Linked DNA regions of Homo sapiens: region 2 is linked to region 1. The links come from fine-mapping of genetic effects on gene expression. A gene starts in region 1. The other region holds a variant in brackets. All regions are shown on one strand. Distances are between the middles of the regions. Region 1 holds the start of ALS2CL (ALS2 C-terminal like). Region 2 has its middle 37 kb from the start of ALS2CL.

What was found.
Region 2: its variant is fine-mapped to the expression of ALS2CL in cerebellar hemisphere (GTEx, PIP above 0.99). The same link has a PIP of 0.9 or more in cerebellum.

The regions. Positions count from the first base shown.
Region 1 is chr3:46,689,540-46,697,921 of GRCh38, forward strand. ALS2CL (ALS2 C-terminal like) reads right to left here and starts at 4,140. Exons shown (of 26, transcript NM_147129.5): 1 at 4,104-4,140. It also overlaps a transcript of TMIE not described here. RefSeq lists enhancers at 2,704-3,495, 5,077-5,866, 6,956-7,455 and silencers at 3,940-4,234, 3,965-4,214, 4,365-4,444.
Region 2 is chr3:46,652,421-46,660,802 of GRCh38, forward strand. No RefSeq gene overlaps it. Among named protein-coding and RNA genes, the nearest start is that of ALS2CL, 37 kb to the right of the region's middle. RefSeq lists an enhancer at 8,375-8,382. The variant T/C (reference allele first, on the strand shown) is at 4,628.

The DNA of each region.
Region 1 (8,382 bases):
CCCAGAAGCAAGGTCCATGACCACCCACATCAGAACTGAGCAGTGAGCCCAGATCGCCTCAAAGGGGAGTTCCTGGACTGGCCACTGACCTCTGCCCTGCTCCCTGCCTAGGCCCAGCTGAGGGGTCCCTGAAGGAGAGAGAGAGCTCAGAGCTGCCAAGGGAAGCAACCCTTTCTTCCCCAAAGGGTAGATGTTCTTTAAGCCCAGTTTGGCCTGCTCATTCCTCTGCTCAAATATCCACCATGGATCCCAAGTGCCCAGGATAGTATTAGTAGTGCCCTGGTCTTAGCCTCCTTTCCATCAAGTCTCCCTTCAGGGATTCTGCAGTCTCTATAAACAGGGTCATACTGTCAGAGGATCCCAGCCCTGTCCTCTAGCCCATGGTTCGGGACTCCCTGTCACCCAACCAGGCTGTGTAAGCAAGGAGAGTTTTGGAGGTATGGGGGAGTCCGGAGGCCTCCTGCTAGAGCCACGAATGATGGGCAAGAAATGAAAAGGAAGACAGGACCCAGCAGGCAAGTGGAGGAACCCTGAGAGTAAAGGCTCATGGGTGTGAGGGCCCAGCCTCTGAGGGCAGCCCACCAAGCAGCACCCCAAAGGACCACAGCTTCACTGTGCCTCAGTCGGCCGTGGACAGCCATGGAGGACTTTAGAGCAAGGTAATGATGGGATCCAAAGTCACATTTGGGGAAATAAATGTATGACAGTTGTAGAGGAGATAGTGCCAGGCAGTGAGAGAGAGTTCAATGTGGATGGGAGCCTGGACCCTCCATGGTCCCCTAACCAGACAGAGGGATCACTGATCACAACCATCCACCCTGAAGGGGTGCCTGCTGGATGGGTGGGGGCCCTTGGGGTGGGCAGGTGGGCTTGAGCCTTGAGATTTCCTGCCCTGGAGTGAGGGACCTTCCAATCAGGCAGGAATCACCTGGGAATGCAGTGTCCTGCCTAAAGGGAGGGGTGAAGAGAGGCCTGGGCTCAAACCTACCCCCACAGCCAGGCTACAGGCTCTACTCCAACAAAGCCCTCCCCTACCAGACCCTGGTACCCTCACTTGGCAATGTTCATCTGCCCAAATGACCTGATCAGGTATCTGGGGCGGAGAGTTAGAGGGTCTTTTAGCCCAAGACCCGCAGACTGTCTCTCTCCTTGTCTCTGACACGCTGAGGCTTTGGAGTTAGCCAACCTGTGTGGGGCAGGGGACAAAATCAGGGCAGCCAACGATGGGCAGGTGACACAGGCAGACCCAAAAGGGTGAGTGGGAAGGGGTCTCAGCCCTCCCCTCTCCACCCTGCCCCGAGAGTGCCATGCGGGCATCCCAGGCCCCTGGCAGAGCCTACAACTCCCAGGGAATTGGCTCTGGAATGGAGTGGGGCGGGTCCCTCAGAGCTCTGGCCAAAGGCCCAGGCCAGGCATTCCTGCCCCACCTTTCCTGCTACTGCTGCTTCGAGAGGGTGAGGCTGCAGAGAGAGAGGCAGGAAGGGGAAGCCACCAGACACCCAGCTGCAGCTTCTGTGCTGCAGCTTCTTCTCCCTCTGTGGGCCCCTGAGGCAGACCCAGGCCCCCAGGACACAGGGGGCTCCAGGTCAGCTCAGGCAGACAAGGAAAGCCCAGCCAAGGGAATAGGGGTGCAGCCAGGCCCACCTAACTCTCACCCGTATCTCCCGAAACTGCTGGAATGGAAAGGCGCTTTGGGGGTGACCTTTTCACTCTCAGCTGGCAGTCAGCTGGGGTCTAAGCTAAGAGGTGAGGATATCCAAGCCTGGTTGGGAAGGTAGAAGAAAGGGTGAGGCTAGGATAGGAGATGCAGACTAGGAACCAGATCAGTGCACGTTGAAAAGATACTGCAGTAAATAACTCGCTGCTAGGAAGACTTGAACACCAACATCCCTACACTCTCCGGGGGGCCAGCACCATGACCCCAGCCGACACCATACCCTGGCAAGGAGCTCTCTGACCCTAGAGATAGCCTCTCCTCCTCAGGCTTCCTGTCCCTCGTCCCCACTGCCCAGTCTCAGCTGCTCCCCCAGGAGCAGCCCTCACCTGGCTGCTCAGCCCTGGACATGCTTCAACTTATCCACAGCCTTACTCCTCTCTGTACCTCAGCCACCCCTCTACGAAATGGGGGTTCAACCAGATCACAGCATTTTTTTCTTTTTATTTGTTTGTATTTCTTTCTATTCTTTTTTTTTTTTTTTTTTAGAGATGGGATCTCACTATGTTGACGAGGCTGGTCTCAAACTCCTAGCCTCAAGTGATCAACCCATCTTGGCCTCCCAAAGTGCTGGGATTACAGGCGTGAGCCACTGCGCCCAGCCAAAGAGGATCACAGCTTTTCAAACTACTTAAGTCTCCCCTCAAAAGGACAAACAGGTGGAAGGGGGCTTCTCTGGGTGTGGGGATCTGGTCCTTAGACTCCCCACCCCACAAAGCAGCCTATGACTCCGGGGGTGAGTCCTCCAGACTCAAGTTGGCAACTGTTAATCTGGGAGTCTTCCACATCTGTGGCCCCAAAGGGATCTATAACCCTGGGAAACTGAGTCACACCACCCAGAGGAACGGGCAGAAGTTAAGCATGGCTGGTGAGGCAGTGGGTTGGGGGAAGGCCGCAGTGGAAGCTGGGATTCTGGTTAGGTGACCCTGAGGGACCCAGCTCCCAGGCTAGGGAGTCTGGGGCTTCATCCTGGAAGTGATGAGGAGAGTGTAAGTGCAGGGGTGAGGCAGCGTGAATGTGCATGAGTGTGCACGTTTGCAGGGCAGGAGGAGGAGGTGCTGAACCTTAATATGAGGAGGATCCTGCAGGAGTACCCCCCTCCCCAACCCCTGTCCCATCCCTAACCTTCCCCCTTCCAGTCAAGGGCATAGCTTCCTCACCCTCTCCCTCCCTCCAGTTCAAAGGTTCCTTAGTGACAGGCTGTGCCTAATGTACAGATGGGGAAACTGAGGCCCAGGAACAATGGGAGGGTCCAGAGACCCTTGTGTAGAACTTGTGCAGGGCTCAGACCCAGACTTCTGGCTCCAGCCCACCAGGTTCACCTAGCTAGATGGCTCAGAGAGGGTGGGCAACTCACCTGAGGCACAGAGCAAGATCCTGACGGGCCCTGCCTCACAGCTGTCCTCAGGCAGCCCTGATGCTCACCACGGGGTGCGGTGGGGTGGGGCAGGGTGAGGACAGAACTGGCCAGTCACGGCGTGCCCAGGTGAGTCAGCGGCTGCCCCTGTGGCGCTCTAACCAGTAGCCAGACCTGGTCTCTCCTCTGCATTCCTGGCCTCTGTCCACGCTAGGTCCCTCCCGGGCAGGGTCACTGGGGCCTTCCCTGTCCTCTCCCAGGCCTGGCTCCTTAGGCCCCTGACACACCTTGTCGTGACACTCACTCACTCTGGTATTTCCTGGTCTGAACAGGCAGGGAAGTTCTGCCTGCTGTGGAGGCTTTTTCATGGGCTGCCGTGGCAGCCCCTTCGTTGTCTGGTGCCCAGTGGGGGAGAGTAGAGACACGCACTGCCCCAGGGAGGGGGCGCTGAACTGTCACACCTGATCCCTCAGTCTCATGCTCGCCTCTCCCCGCTGCACCCTTCCTCGGCCCCACCATGGCTACAAGCCTCTTGTCCTAGACAAGCACCCCTCCCTGCTGTCGCATATGTCCCAGCTTCCCTTCCTCTCCCTGCCCAGGCACACACTCAGTCGCTGGAGTTTCCCAGACCCGAGCTCCTGTTCCGGCCGCCAGGCATTTGCCATGCCGCTCCCATGCGAAAAGGCCACCTCCTGGAATCCCGGGTCGGGCCCTTCCGCCCTAACCAGCCGGCGTCACCTCCTCCTGGCAGTCTCTCCTGCTGGCTGGGGCCCCGTGGCCCTGCCACCACGGCTCAGGTCAGGCCCGGGGCGCTGCCCCGAACCCAAGCAGGCTAGCAGCCAGGCAGGGAGGACGACGCTGTGAGCGGGGTATCTTACGAGGGACTCGGACGGCCGGGGGATGACTGCCGCCGGGACCAAGGAGCTGGGCGGGGACCGCAGCAGCCGAGGAGGCGGGAGCCCCCACCTGGACGAGCTAAGCGTGGAGCGCAGACACCCGTCCGCAGACGCGCGCCCTTCGTCGCGCCCTTACCTGAGCGCTGTGGTTGCCCCGCGCCGGGACTGCCTGTGCGGCTCCTCGCTCGCACCCCCACCCTGCCCCCTGCCAGTCCCGCCCCCTGCCAGCCCCGCCCCCTTCGCCCAGCCCCGCCCCGCCCCGCCTCCGGGTGTTGCTCTGGAGTTGCGGGGGCCACGGGCGGGCCACCGAGGAGCTGGCGCGCGGTATTGATCCGTCCCGCCGCCCCAAGCCTCTCCTGAGGCCTCCCTCTGGCGTCCCCCGGGATCCGGAGGCCCCTGGGACCCGGCGCGGGGAGGAAAAGTGGGAGTCTTGACCCCTCCGCCCCCTACGCACCCACGCGCACACTCAGGCTCGCCTCTCGCGCCCCGCTTCCCCTGCAAGGCTCCGAGGCCGCCGTGCCACCACCTCGCCCCGCCAGTCAGTCGCTCTGCGAGCCTGTGGTGCAGCCCCGTGACCTCCCGGGTCTGCCCTGAGTCACAGAAGCCAGCACACGCGGAGCGCTGTGTGGGTTCGTGGAACTTGGAGCCTGTAGAGGGGTATACTGAGGCGCCCTGCGGCCCCCTGGGCTGGGTGTCCACGGCCGGCCGCCCCTCCTGTGCGACCTTGGGGAAGTCCCCTTTCCTCCCCACTCCTGAGTCTCAACAGGCCTAGTAGAGCATGAAGCCGGCCGCGTGTGCTTTGTGCGAAGGCCTGAGACCTTGGAAAGGGTGGCTGAAGACTTATCTGGGACAGACCCCCCGGGAGCGGGAGGGAACTTAGTTCAAACCTGTAACAAAGAAGCCCCCCGTCAGCAGCCTGATTCCCCCTCTGGCCACCAGGTTAGTCACCCATTGCTCTCAGTGGCACTCAGGTTCCAGTGAGGGGGAGGCTCAGGGTCCAAGGCGGCCGTGGAAGAGCAGAAAGGGTGGCCCACCAGCCCCCTACTCAGCCCCCTACTGAGGAGGTGGGAGGCATCCCCCAACCTGCCAGGCTGAAGAGACCCCCAGTGGAGGTAAGTAGGGGCCTGGGGCCTGCCAAGCTCATCCCCTGGCTCCCTTGGGTTGTTGCGAGGTGGGAGTTTACTGTCTGCCAAGCTGCACATCACCCCTTGGAGGGTTTCCAGCCTGGGACCCTTGTCTGAGTGACTGCAGGTCCCAGTGACCTCACCCTTTTGCCCCACATTGCTCTCCTCCTGGGTCCCAATCCTGCAGAGCCGCCCCTTCCTGCTTCTCCATCCCTCCCCACATTGCCAAAGCCCGCCCTAGCTCTGGCCTCCCCTTTTCCAGCCTTGTTTTCTTGCCCCCTTCTGCACCCCCTGCTGCCTGAGGGGCTCCACTCCCAAAGGCCTTGCTCCTCTGGTCCCTGCCTGCTAGAGGTGTTGCTGTGTTGGTGGGTGGGGGCTACCTCAAGGAGGCTTCTGGTGAGGTGTCCCTCTGGCCCTCTGGGAAAGCCTCCCCTCCCCATGCCCTCCACCCCCAGGCTCCGGACCTTGGCCCCCACTCCCCTTCACAGCCCTGTTGGCCTGCGGGACTGTCTGCTGGGGCACTTGGCTCCCTGAGTCTACAGCACAGCCTGGCAGAGCCACCGCCCCAGCAGGTGGAATGAACTGAGGCTTCAGGTTCTAAACAGGCCTCCAAGGTCTTCCCTGTGGGGATCCTTTGTGCCTGTGGGGCAGTGGGAGGTAGCGGTACATTCTGGAAGAGCTGGTATGGGGCCTTGTGCTGCTTTCCTCTTGCTGTGTGATCACAGGCAGTGTGTGGCCTCTCTGTAACGTAGTGCCCCTGCTGGTGAAATATCTTACCTGCGCCTCCTTCTCGGGGTTATGTGGGACTCTGAGAGGAGGGGTATGGTGGGTTCAAGGGGCTCCTTCAGGGATGAGCACGGTTTAGAGGATCTATGGGTCCCCTAGAGCATGGGTGTGGGCCACCAGGCATCCCTGGGGCTTAGGAGGGAGGCAAGGGCTGGAGAGTGGCCATGGCCTCAGGAGGAGCATATGGCCTCACCACTTGTGACGAACAGGGACAGGTGGGGCAAGGCCCCGAGCAGGACAGATCTGATCTTATGCTAGGTGTCTCTGGGCCTCACTTTCATCATCTGCACGTGCAGCTGAGGGAAGGCAGTGCTGCCTGGGCTCGAGCAGGAAGGGAAGGGCTCCCACGGCTTCCTCCCTAGAGCACAGACTTCCTGTTCAGCCACATCTAGGGGAATAGAAAGGCTGACTGAGCTCTGGGCAGCAGACCAGTCCTTCCCCCATTCCCTGGGTGACCTCATGGGCATTGCAAGCCCAGTTTTCCTATCTGCTAAATGGGGCAAGACCTGCCCAGCCTCTCTTACAGCTCATTCTTGGCTTGGGGCCAGGTAAGGCCTCTGGTAGTGCCCAAAGGACAGCCTCTGCTGAGTCCACCTGCCTTCAGTCCCCTGCAGCACAGCCAAGGGCCCCTAGCCAATCCCACCACAGATGTGTATACCCACCCACACCACTCCCACACCCGCTGCACACAGATACAATTCCACAGTCAGGGAATGGGTGGGTCCCTGTGCCACATGGACCCATCTACCATTGAACCCACTGGTAAGGACTCCAAGTTGCACAACTCTAGTGGCAGCCCTGGGTATGCGTGTGCAGATCATGTGCCCATCCACAGGGACACAGACCTGCACACTACTCCAGGGAACACACACGTATGTGAATGGCACCTGTGATTCTGGAGCCATTGAGACTCATACCCAGCCACACACAAAGCTGCATGCAGAATGCACATGCACTCCCATGTGCACCAGTGCCTTAGTACACAAAGCACATGCTCAAGCACACGCAGGTCTGACACAGGCCTGGCCCAGCCCCACAGCTATTCTGAGCTGAGCCTGGGGCTGATGAGGTCAGGGACAGCCAACTCCCAGCAGGCCCCAGCTGCTGTGGCACAGGCCTAGGCTGCCCAGCTCCCACCCCCACCCTAGGCTGAGTCCCTGGATCCTAGCCTAGCTTTGTGACTGGGGGTCCTCATTTCCTACCCCCAGCTCCCCCAGAGCTAAACTTTAAGCCCTGGGATTTCAGGCTCCAGGAGAGAACATTCCACAGGGTCCTCTGGCCACTACCCCCTGCCTTGCTCACAGCTTCCAGTTCAGAGGCCCTGGAGGCTGGACTGGGTCCCTACAGGAAACTCACAGGAGCTAAAATTAGTACAGGAGGGAGAAGCAGGGATCTGCAGACCAGCATTCACAGCACCATGTATGGAGGGGACACTGTCTTCCAGGGAGCAAGGGTGGGGGACTTGGAGTCCAGAGGTCCCCAACCCCAGATATGATGGGCCCAACTGATTTTGGGGTGCAGGGGGATGTGGAGGCCTCCTAAGAAGCAGAAACAGTACTGGACACTGAGCAGTGTCCTGGGTTGGAGGCAAAGGCTGAGGTGGAGGCCATAGTTCCTGTGTGACCTTAGGCAGGGCATAACCCCTCTATGAGCTTAAATTCCTCACTGAAAAGCCCTCAGAGATGTAAAGTCCCTCAAAGATGGGGGAAAAAAAAACCCATGTGGTGTTAGGTATTGATTTTCATCCTCGGCTACTGGCTCATAGCTCCCATTGCCCTTGTTACGGTCTTTGGCTATAATGTGTTGGGCCTCAGGGCAGGCCCCAGGAAACGGAATCTCTCTGACCTTCTCCTGCTCTGCTTTCACCTGCCCCAAGTCAGGACCCTAATTTTCCCACACCTTTCTGATTGCGAGTCTTAAGACCCTCCCCAGAGAGGGTCCTGCCCTATACTCTGGGAGGAAGGAATGCAGATGTCGTGAAGCCTCCATAAACCCCAAGAGGACAGGGTTCAGAGGGCTTCTGAATAGCTGAACGTGTGGAGGCTGGGTGGCATGCCCAGGAGGGCATGGAAGCTCCATACCCCTTCCTCCATATCTCGCCCTATGCATCTCTTCAGCTGTATCCTTCGTAATACCCTTTACAGTAAGCCAGTAAAAGTCAGTCAGTGCTTCCCTGAGTTCTGTGACCCACTCCAGCAAATTAAGCCCAAAGAGGAGGTTGTAGGAACCCCAGCGTGAAGCCAGTTGGTCAGAAGTTCCAGAGGCCAGACTGGCAACTGGTGTCTTGGGGCTGGGTGGGCAGTCTTGGGAACTGAGGCCTCAATCTGTGGGATCTGACACTATCTCCGGGTAGATCATGTCAGAATCGAATTGGAAGGCACTCAGTTGGTGTCTGCTGCTTGGCATTTAGGGAAAAAACCCACACATTTGATCACAGAAGACTTCTGTGTGGATGATTGTTGTTGTGTTGGTGTACGAGCAGAGGAAAAGATATAGTTTGAGAGA
Region 2 (8,382 bases), 37 kb before region 1:
ATATACATAAGCCAATCTCTTTCCTGTATACCAGCAATGAACAGTGGAATTTGAAATTAAAAACACATTACTATTTACATCAGCAATAAAAAAAGAAATACTTTGGTATAAATCTAACAAAATATGCACAAGATCCAGGAAAACTACAAAAGCCTAATGAAAGAAATCAAAGAAGTAAATAAATGGAGAGATAACTTAGTCTATGTTCATGGATAGGAAGACTCAATATTATCAAGATGTCAGTTCATCCCAGTTTGAACTATAGAGTCAGCATAATCCCAATCAAAATCCTAACAAGTTATTTTGTGGATATTGACAAACCAATTCTAAAGTTTACATATCTAAAGGCATAAGATCCAGAACGGCCAACACAATATTGAAGGAGAACAAAGTCAGAGCACTGTTACTACCCAACTTTAAGACTTACTATAGGTTGGCACAGTGGCTCATGCCTGTAATCCCAGCACCTTGGGAAGCCGAGGTTGGTGGATCACCTGAAGTCAGGAGTTCAAGACGAGCCTGGCCAACATAGTGAAACCTTGTCTCTACTAAAAATACACGCCTGGGACTACAGGCGTGGTGGTATGTGCCTGCAGTCCCAGCAACTTGGGAGGCTGAGGCACAAGAATTGCTTGAACCCGGAAGGTGGAGGTTGCAGTGAGCTAAGATCACACCACTGCACTCCAGCCTAGGTGACAGAGTGAGACTCCATCTCAAAAAAAAAAAAAAAAAAAAGACATATTATAAAGCTACAGTAATTAAGGCAGTGTGGTATTGGTAAGAGGAGAAACAAATAGATAAATGGGACAGAATTGAGAGCTTAGAAATAGGCCCACATAGATATAGCCAACTGATTTTTTACAGAGGAGCAAAGGCAATACAATGGAAAAAAGATAGTCTCTTCAACAAATGGTGCTGAAACACCTGGACATTTACATGCCAAAACATGAATCTAGACACACGCCTTACACTTTTTGCAAAAATTAAAACAAAGTGGATCATAGACCTGAATGTAAAACTGTGAAACTCCTAGAAGACAACATAAGAGAAAATCTAGATGACCTTGGGTATGGCAATGACCTTTTAGATACAATCCATGAAATAAATAATTGATAAGCTGGACTTCATTAAAATTAAAAACTTCAGCCTGGTGCAGTGGTTCATGCTTATAATCCCAACAGTTTGGGAGACTGAGGTGGGAGGATCACTTGAGCCCAGGAGTCTGAGACCAGCCTGGGCAACATGGCAAAACCCCGTCTCTACAAAAAATACAAAAATTAGCCGGGTGTGGTGGTATGCACTTGTAGTCCCAGCTACTCAGGAGGCTGGGATGGGAGTATCACCTGAAGTCATGGCTGCAGTGAGCTGTGATTGTGCCACTGCACTCCAGTCTGGATGAAATCCTGTATCAAAAAAAAAAAAAAAAAGATTTAAAAACTTCTAGCCGGGCGCGGTGGCTCACGCCTTTAATCCCAGCACTTTGGGAGGCCAAGGCAGGTGGATCATGAGGTCAGGAGTTTGAAACCAGCCTGACCAATATGATGAAACCCCGTCTCTACTAAAAATACAAAAATTAGCTGGGTGTGGTGGTGCGCGCCTATAATCCCAGCTACTCAGGAGGCTGAAGTAAGAGAATTGCTTGGAGCCGGGAGACAGAGATTGCAGTGAGCTGAGATTGCGCCATTGCACTCCAGCCTGGGCAACAGAGCGAGAGCGAGACTCCGTCTCAAAACAACAACAACAACAACAACAACAACAACAACAACAACAAAAAACCTTCTGCTTTGTGAAAGGCACTGTCAAGAGAAGGAGAAGAGAAGTCATAGACTGGGAGAAAATATTTCTGCCAAATATATGCCTGACATAAGACTGTAATGCAAAACAAAGAACTCTTTAAAAAACAATAAGTAAAAGAACAGTTTGATTTAAACATGGGCAAAAGACCTGAAGACACCTCACCAAAGGAGAATACAGATGGCAAGGGGTTTATTTCTGGGCTTTTCAGTGTGTTTCATTGGTCTATATCTCTGTCTCCATGCCAGTACCACACAGAGGATTTTTAGGGCAGTGAAACTATTCTGTATGATTCTATTAATGACGGATCTATGTCATTATACATTTGTCAAAACCCATAGAATGAACAATACTAATGTAAATTTTGGACTTTGGGCAATAATGACATGTTAATGAAGGTTCATTGGTTTTAACAAGCACCATTCTGGTGCAGATTGTTAATAGATGGGGAGGCTATGCATGGATAGGGGCTAAAGGTGTGTGGGAACTCTGCACTTTCTGTATACTTTTGCTGTGAACCTAAAACTACTCTAAAAACTATGTGTGTGTGTGTGTGTGTGTGTGTATTTTGAGACAGAGTCTTGCTTGGTCTGTTGCCCAGGCTGGAGTGCAGTGGGGCATCTCGGCTTGCTGCAACCTCCGCTTCCCGGGTTCAAGCAATTCTCCTGCCTCAGCCTCCCGAGTAGCTGTGATTACAGGCACCTGCCACCGCGCCCAGCTAATTTTTGTATTTTTAGCAGAGACGGGATTTCATCACAGTGGCCAGGCTGGTCTTGAACTCCTGACCTCAGGTGATCTGCCCACCTCAGCCTCCCAAAATGCTGGGATTACAGGTGTGAGCCACCACACCTGACCAAAAAAAGAAATCTATCTTTTAAAAGTCTAATGAAAAGCTGATATGCAGCCAAGAATATGAAAGATGCCAGTGAGTTGCCTTTTAATCCATAAAAATTAATTAGGTATTATCATCATCAACATTTTTCTAAACAGAAGTTAAATGTTGCATCTGATGTTAAATGTTGTTGAAGTAGCAGAGTGAGGCTTTAACTCTTAGACTATGTGATTCCAAATTCTCTGCTAGCTCAATAGCATTGGAATAGCAATGAGATTTCATGAAAAATGATGAAGGCAAGTAAAGGTATCCTTTTGCTATGGAGTAGAAAGTTCTACCACAGGGATATCCAGGAAGTGAGAAAAGCCAGAAGAGATAAATGTGGCAGCCTCGGCTGGTCAGAGAATAATTCCCAAAGGAGATGATGCATGTGCTAAGAGTTTCTCAGCAAGTAGAAATGAACCTGTGGAACTCAAACAACTCAGCAAGAAAAAAACAAATAATCCCATCAAAAAGTGGGCGGTGGATAAGAATAGACAGTTCTCGGCCGGGCACAGTGGCTCACGCCTGTAATCCAGCACTTTAGGAGGCTGAGGTGGGCAGATCACGAGGTCAGGAGATCAAGACCATCCTGGCTAACACGGTGAAACCCCGTCTCTACTAAAAATACAAAAAATTAGCGGGGCATGGTGGCGGGCACCTGTAGTCCCAGCTACTCAGGAGGCTGAGGCAGGAGAATGGCGTGAACCCAGAAGGCGGAGCTTGCAGTGAGCCGAGATCGCACCACTGCACTCCAGCCTTGGGCAACAGAGCGAGACTCCACCTCAAAAAAAAAGAAGAAGAATAGACAGTTCTCAAAAGAAGATATACAGTCAACAAACACATGAAAAAAATGCTCAACATCACTAATCATCAGGGAAATGCAAATTAAAACTACAATAACATACCACCTTACTCCTGCAAGAATGGCCATAATTAAAAAGTCACAAAACAATAGATATTGATGGTGTGGAAGTAGTGAAAAGAGAACACTTTCACATTGCTGGTGGGGATGTAAATTAGTACAACCATACTGTAGAAAACAGTGTGGAGATTCCTTAAAGAACTAAAAGTAGATCTACCATTCAATCCAGCAATCCCACGACTGGGTATCTACCCAGAGGAAAAGAAGTCATTACATGAAAAAGACACTTGCACACGCATGTTTATAGCAGCACAATTCACAATTGCAAAGATATGGAACCAATCTAAATGCCCATTGACCAACAAGTGGATCAAGAAAATATGGTATATATACATCATGGAATACATCTCAGCCATAAAAAGGAACAAAATAATGTCTTTTGCAGCAACTTGGATGGAGCTGGAGGCCACTATTCTAAATGAAGTAACTTAGGAATGGAAAACCAAATACCATATGTTCTCACTCATAAGTGAAAGCTAAATTATGAGGACGCAAATGCCTAAGAACGTCATAATGGACTGTGGAAACTTGGGAGGGGGACAGTTGGGAGCAGAGTGAAGGATAAAAGACCATATACTGGGTACAGTATACACTGCTTTATGGATGCACTAAATCTCAGAAATCACCACGAAAGAACTTATCCATGTAACCAAAGCCCAACTATACCCCAAAAACTATTGAAATAAATATAAAAACAAATCCATTGAAGAGGCAAGCTGGATAGCTCCCATTTACCCTTTTAGACCTGCTCTACACTCTTTTACATCTCTCTCTGCAACCAGATTCTGGGGGCCTCTGGCTCCCAGCTGGGTGCAGCATATGGAGTGGTTGTTTTATTCTGGGCCGCCCAGTGCCAACACCAACGCATACAGCAGCCTCTGCAGGGGGCCCTCTTTCAACCCTTCTCTCACCTGTTTCTCATTAAAGTCCTTCTCTGTTGCCCCATCAGGGCTAGTAATACTAAGTGTCTCACCATTATTGCTAGCCGCAGGGTGATTCCTCTCCTTGTTAGTTTCTCTAAACACAGCCCACACTTT[T/C]GGAAAGAGGCCCTATGGTTCCATCTATCAAGAGGACCATCTGTCTCCTGCTGCAAACTTGACCAATACAGAACAACATTAAAATCAGAAGAACAATATTAAAATCAGCTGGGCATTGAGGAGTGAATGGGCATGGAGAATTAGGGTAAATTCTGGAACAGGGGTCCCCAACCCCCTTCGCAGTACTGGTCCATGGCCTGTTAGGAGCCAGGCCATAGAGCAGAAGGTGAGCAGTGGGTGAGTAAGCAAAGCTTCGCCTGTATTTACAGCCACGCCCCATCACCGGCATTACCACCTGAGCACCTCCTCCTGTCTGATCAGCAGCATTAGATTCTCATAGGAGTGCAAACCCCATTGTGAACTGCGCATGCGAGGGATCTAGGTTGCAGGTTCCTTACCATAACCTAATGCTTGATGATCTGTCACTGTCTCCCATCACCCTTTGATAGGACCATCTCTAGTTGCAGGAAAACAAGCTCAGGGCTCCTACTGACTCTGCATTCTGGTGAGTTGTATAATCATTTCTTTACATATTACAATGTAATAATAATAGAAATAAAGTGCACAATAAACGTAATGCGCTTGAATCATCCCGAAATCACCTCCCCACCCCGCCCCTAGTCTGTGGAAAAATTGTCTTCCACAAAACTGGTCTCCGGTGCCAAAAAGGTTGGGGGCCACTGTTTTAGAAGACTCATATGGCAGAATTATAGATTACAAGGTTCAATAAATGCCAGGATTGTGGCTGGAAAGGAGGGTAGAAGTCAATTCCAGAAGGTGCCTTTCCTGTTGTGCAGTTGACTCAGAACTGGGATGCTAGAAAGTTGCCCTGTGATTTGTGGAGGGAATCCACACTAACCACAGGAAATCACCCATGACATTTGCAAGACAGAAGGAAGGAGAAACTGAACTAAGGGGTGGTAGCAGAACTGGACAGGAGGTAGTGCAGAGAAGAATTATTTACATGTTGAACCAATGGAGTTAAGAACTAAATGCTGGACCTCTTTTTTTTTTTTTTTTGGTGGAGATGGGATCTCACTATGTTGCCCCAGCTAGAGTGCAGTGGTGCAAACAAGGCTCACTGCAGCCTCAACCTCTTGGGCTCAAGTAATCCTCCTGCCTCAGCCTCCTGAGTAGCTGGGACTACAGGCACATGCCACCATGCCCAGCTAATTTTTAAAATGTTTATACAGATGAGGTCTCACTATGTTGCCGAGGCTAGTCTCAAACTCCTGAGCTCAAGTGATCCTCCCACCTTGGCCTCCCTAACTGCTGGGAACCACTGCACCCAGCCTACTGGGCATTTTTTAATGCCCAGCCTTAGCAAGGCATCTGCCTCACAGCAGACACTCAATGACTAGCACCTGGTGAATTTAGTCCAGTCGCGCCTTGATCTCCACCCAGCAGGTTATCAGTATTTGACTATACTAAACATTTCATTTAAAGAATGCTTTGAGCCCGGGCATGGTGGCTCATGCCTGTAACCCCAGCACTTTGGGAGGCCGAGGCGGGCAGATCACCTGAGGTCAGGGGTTTGAGACCAGGCTGGCCAACATAGTGAAATCCCGTCTCTACCAAAAATACAAAAATTAGCTGGGCATGATGGCGCACACCTGTAATCCCAGCTACATGGGAGGCTGAGGCAGGAGAATCACTTAAACCTGGGAGGCAGAGATTGCAGTGAGCTGAGATTGCGCCACTGCACTCCAGCTTGGGTGACTGAGACTCTGTCTCAAAAAAAAAAAAATGCTCTGCATGCCCGCCTGTAACCAAAAATAAATATTAATTGCTGAGTTACTTTTACTGTGGAAAAACTACTCATCTGCTTGACATTGCTCTTTCACCAAGGGGCATTCTGTTGTTTCACCTCTGCAATTTAAAATTTCTAGTGAAATTAAATTCTGTTACTTGTTGTGGCTGTGTACCATCTTAAACTATCATTAATCACAAAGACAGATAATACCAAGGAATGATTTCAATGCCGCACCTGCAAGTGGCGGAGAACTGCAAGCTGGAATCAGCCTCTGCCGAGGTGCAGGCCCCAAGAGACAGCAGCATCTGTGTAGAAACCAAACACATGCATTTTTTTCCTCTGTGTTTATAGAATTGTCTTCCGTTTACGGTCATTGATGCTGGATTTCCACGTACACAGGGATATGAAGTTTCCCATTTTAACAGATTCCCATTTTTAAGTAGAAGTATAGAAAAACTCTAAAAGTTAAATGATGAATAGTAGGTTTGGCAAGGACTGTTCCGTTTACCTAGTGCTGCACTAAAAAGCCATCCCAAAACAATGGCTTGAAACAATAGCCGAGGTTTATTTTGCTCAGGAATCTGGGGCTGACTGGGCTGCTAGGCAGCTGTTGCCTGGGGGCATCTCTAAGGTTCCAGTCCATGGAGGCTGCAGTCACACGCGAGTGTCCTCACTCACGCGCCCAGTGTCTGGGCTGGTAAGACTCCAGGCACTGGATGCTGGATAGGCTGGGCCTATTGGGTCTCTCTCTCTGAGGCGTCCCCACACAGCAGCTCAGGGCTGCCAGACTCCCAGCATGATGGTTAAAGGCTCCCAGAACAAGGATCCCAGGAGAACTGGCAGGACCTATGTGGCTTTCTATAAGCAGCCTCAGAAGGCACTCGGCTCTCTCCTGCTGTAATCATTAAGGGCTGTGGTTTAAGGTGAGGTTCGTGGCCTCTGTGTCTTGATGGGGAGAGTGTGGAAGAATTGGTGGATATGTTTGAAAGCCACCACCAGGGCAGAAAAAAAAATACTGAGAGGCTGAACATTAGGGGATATGGGGAAATGCCCCTGCAGGTTTTGAAAGTCTTTCTCACTTGGGGTTTGCCTGACCTCCCTGCAACTCATTTCCCAGCTCTCTGCATTCTGGAAAGTCATGCCCTTCTACCTCTGGGCCTTTGACTCTGCCTTCCCCCCTGCCAGGCAAGCCATTCCTCCCTCTGGCAAATTCATTCTTCAAGATCCAGTTTCATGGTGCTGTCTGCTAAGACAGGGCCCCCACCTCTGCCCTCTTCCTGCTGTGACCACACAGACTAGGCATGTTTTGCAGACTCTTTCTCCAGAAGGACCGGGCACACAGGAAACCAATGACCACTCACTTCCCCAAGGTCATCTTTCCTCAGAGGCACTGGCAAGACTCACTGTGTAAGCACAGGTTGATTTCAGCTCACCTGCTGTCATCCGTGCTTGTCCCTGGGGATGCCTTGGCCAAACCTGAAAGAAATGCAGGAACCAGTGATGAATAGTCCTGTGCTAGTGCCTGAGACAGGCCGGGGGCCTCCTGCAGCCACTTGTCCGCACTGCTCATGTACAGATGCGTGGGTGCACCTGCTTGCTCGTATGTCCGCCTGGTTTGGCTGCATGACAGCAAGGTATAAAAGATCCTTTCTGGTTTGAAACAGTGGTTCCCTGAGGTCAAGGTATCTCCCATGTGCCTGCTGGCCCCTTTCTCTCTCCTCCAGTGCTCTCTGCCGCCCCTTAAAAGGGTCCACCACATTTCCCACGAGGATCAAAGCAATTGTGTGGGAGAGAAGAGCTTGCCTCTGAAGGCAGGCCTTGGAGATGGCCTCTTATTGATGGTCCTCACCCCTTCCTCATGGTCCTGTGCTAACCAGGCCACACAGACCGAGTCCTCACTGCACCAGGCACCGCTGCCCCAGCTCCAGGCTGCCACCCTCTGGGCTCCAGCAGCTGGGGGTGCAGAGAGCACCTGGCTCCTCAGGACACAGAGGAAGCACCT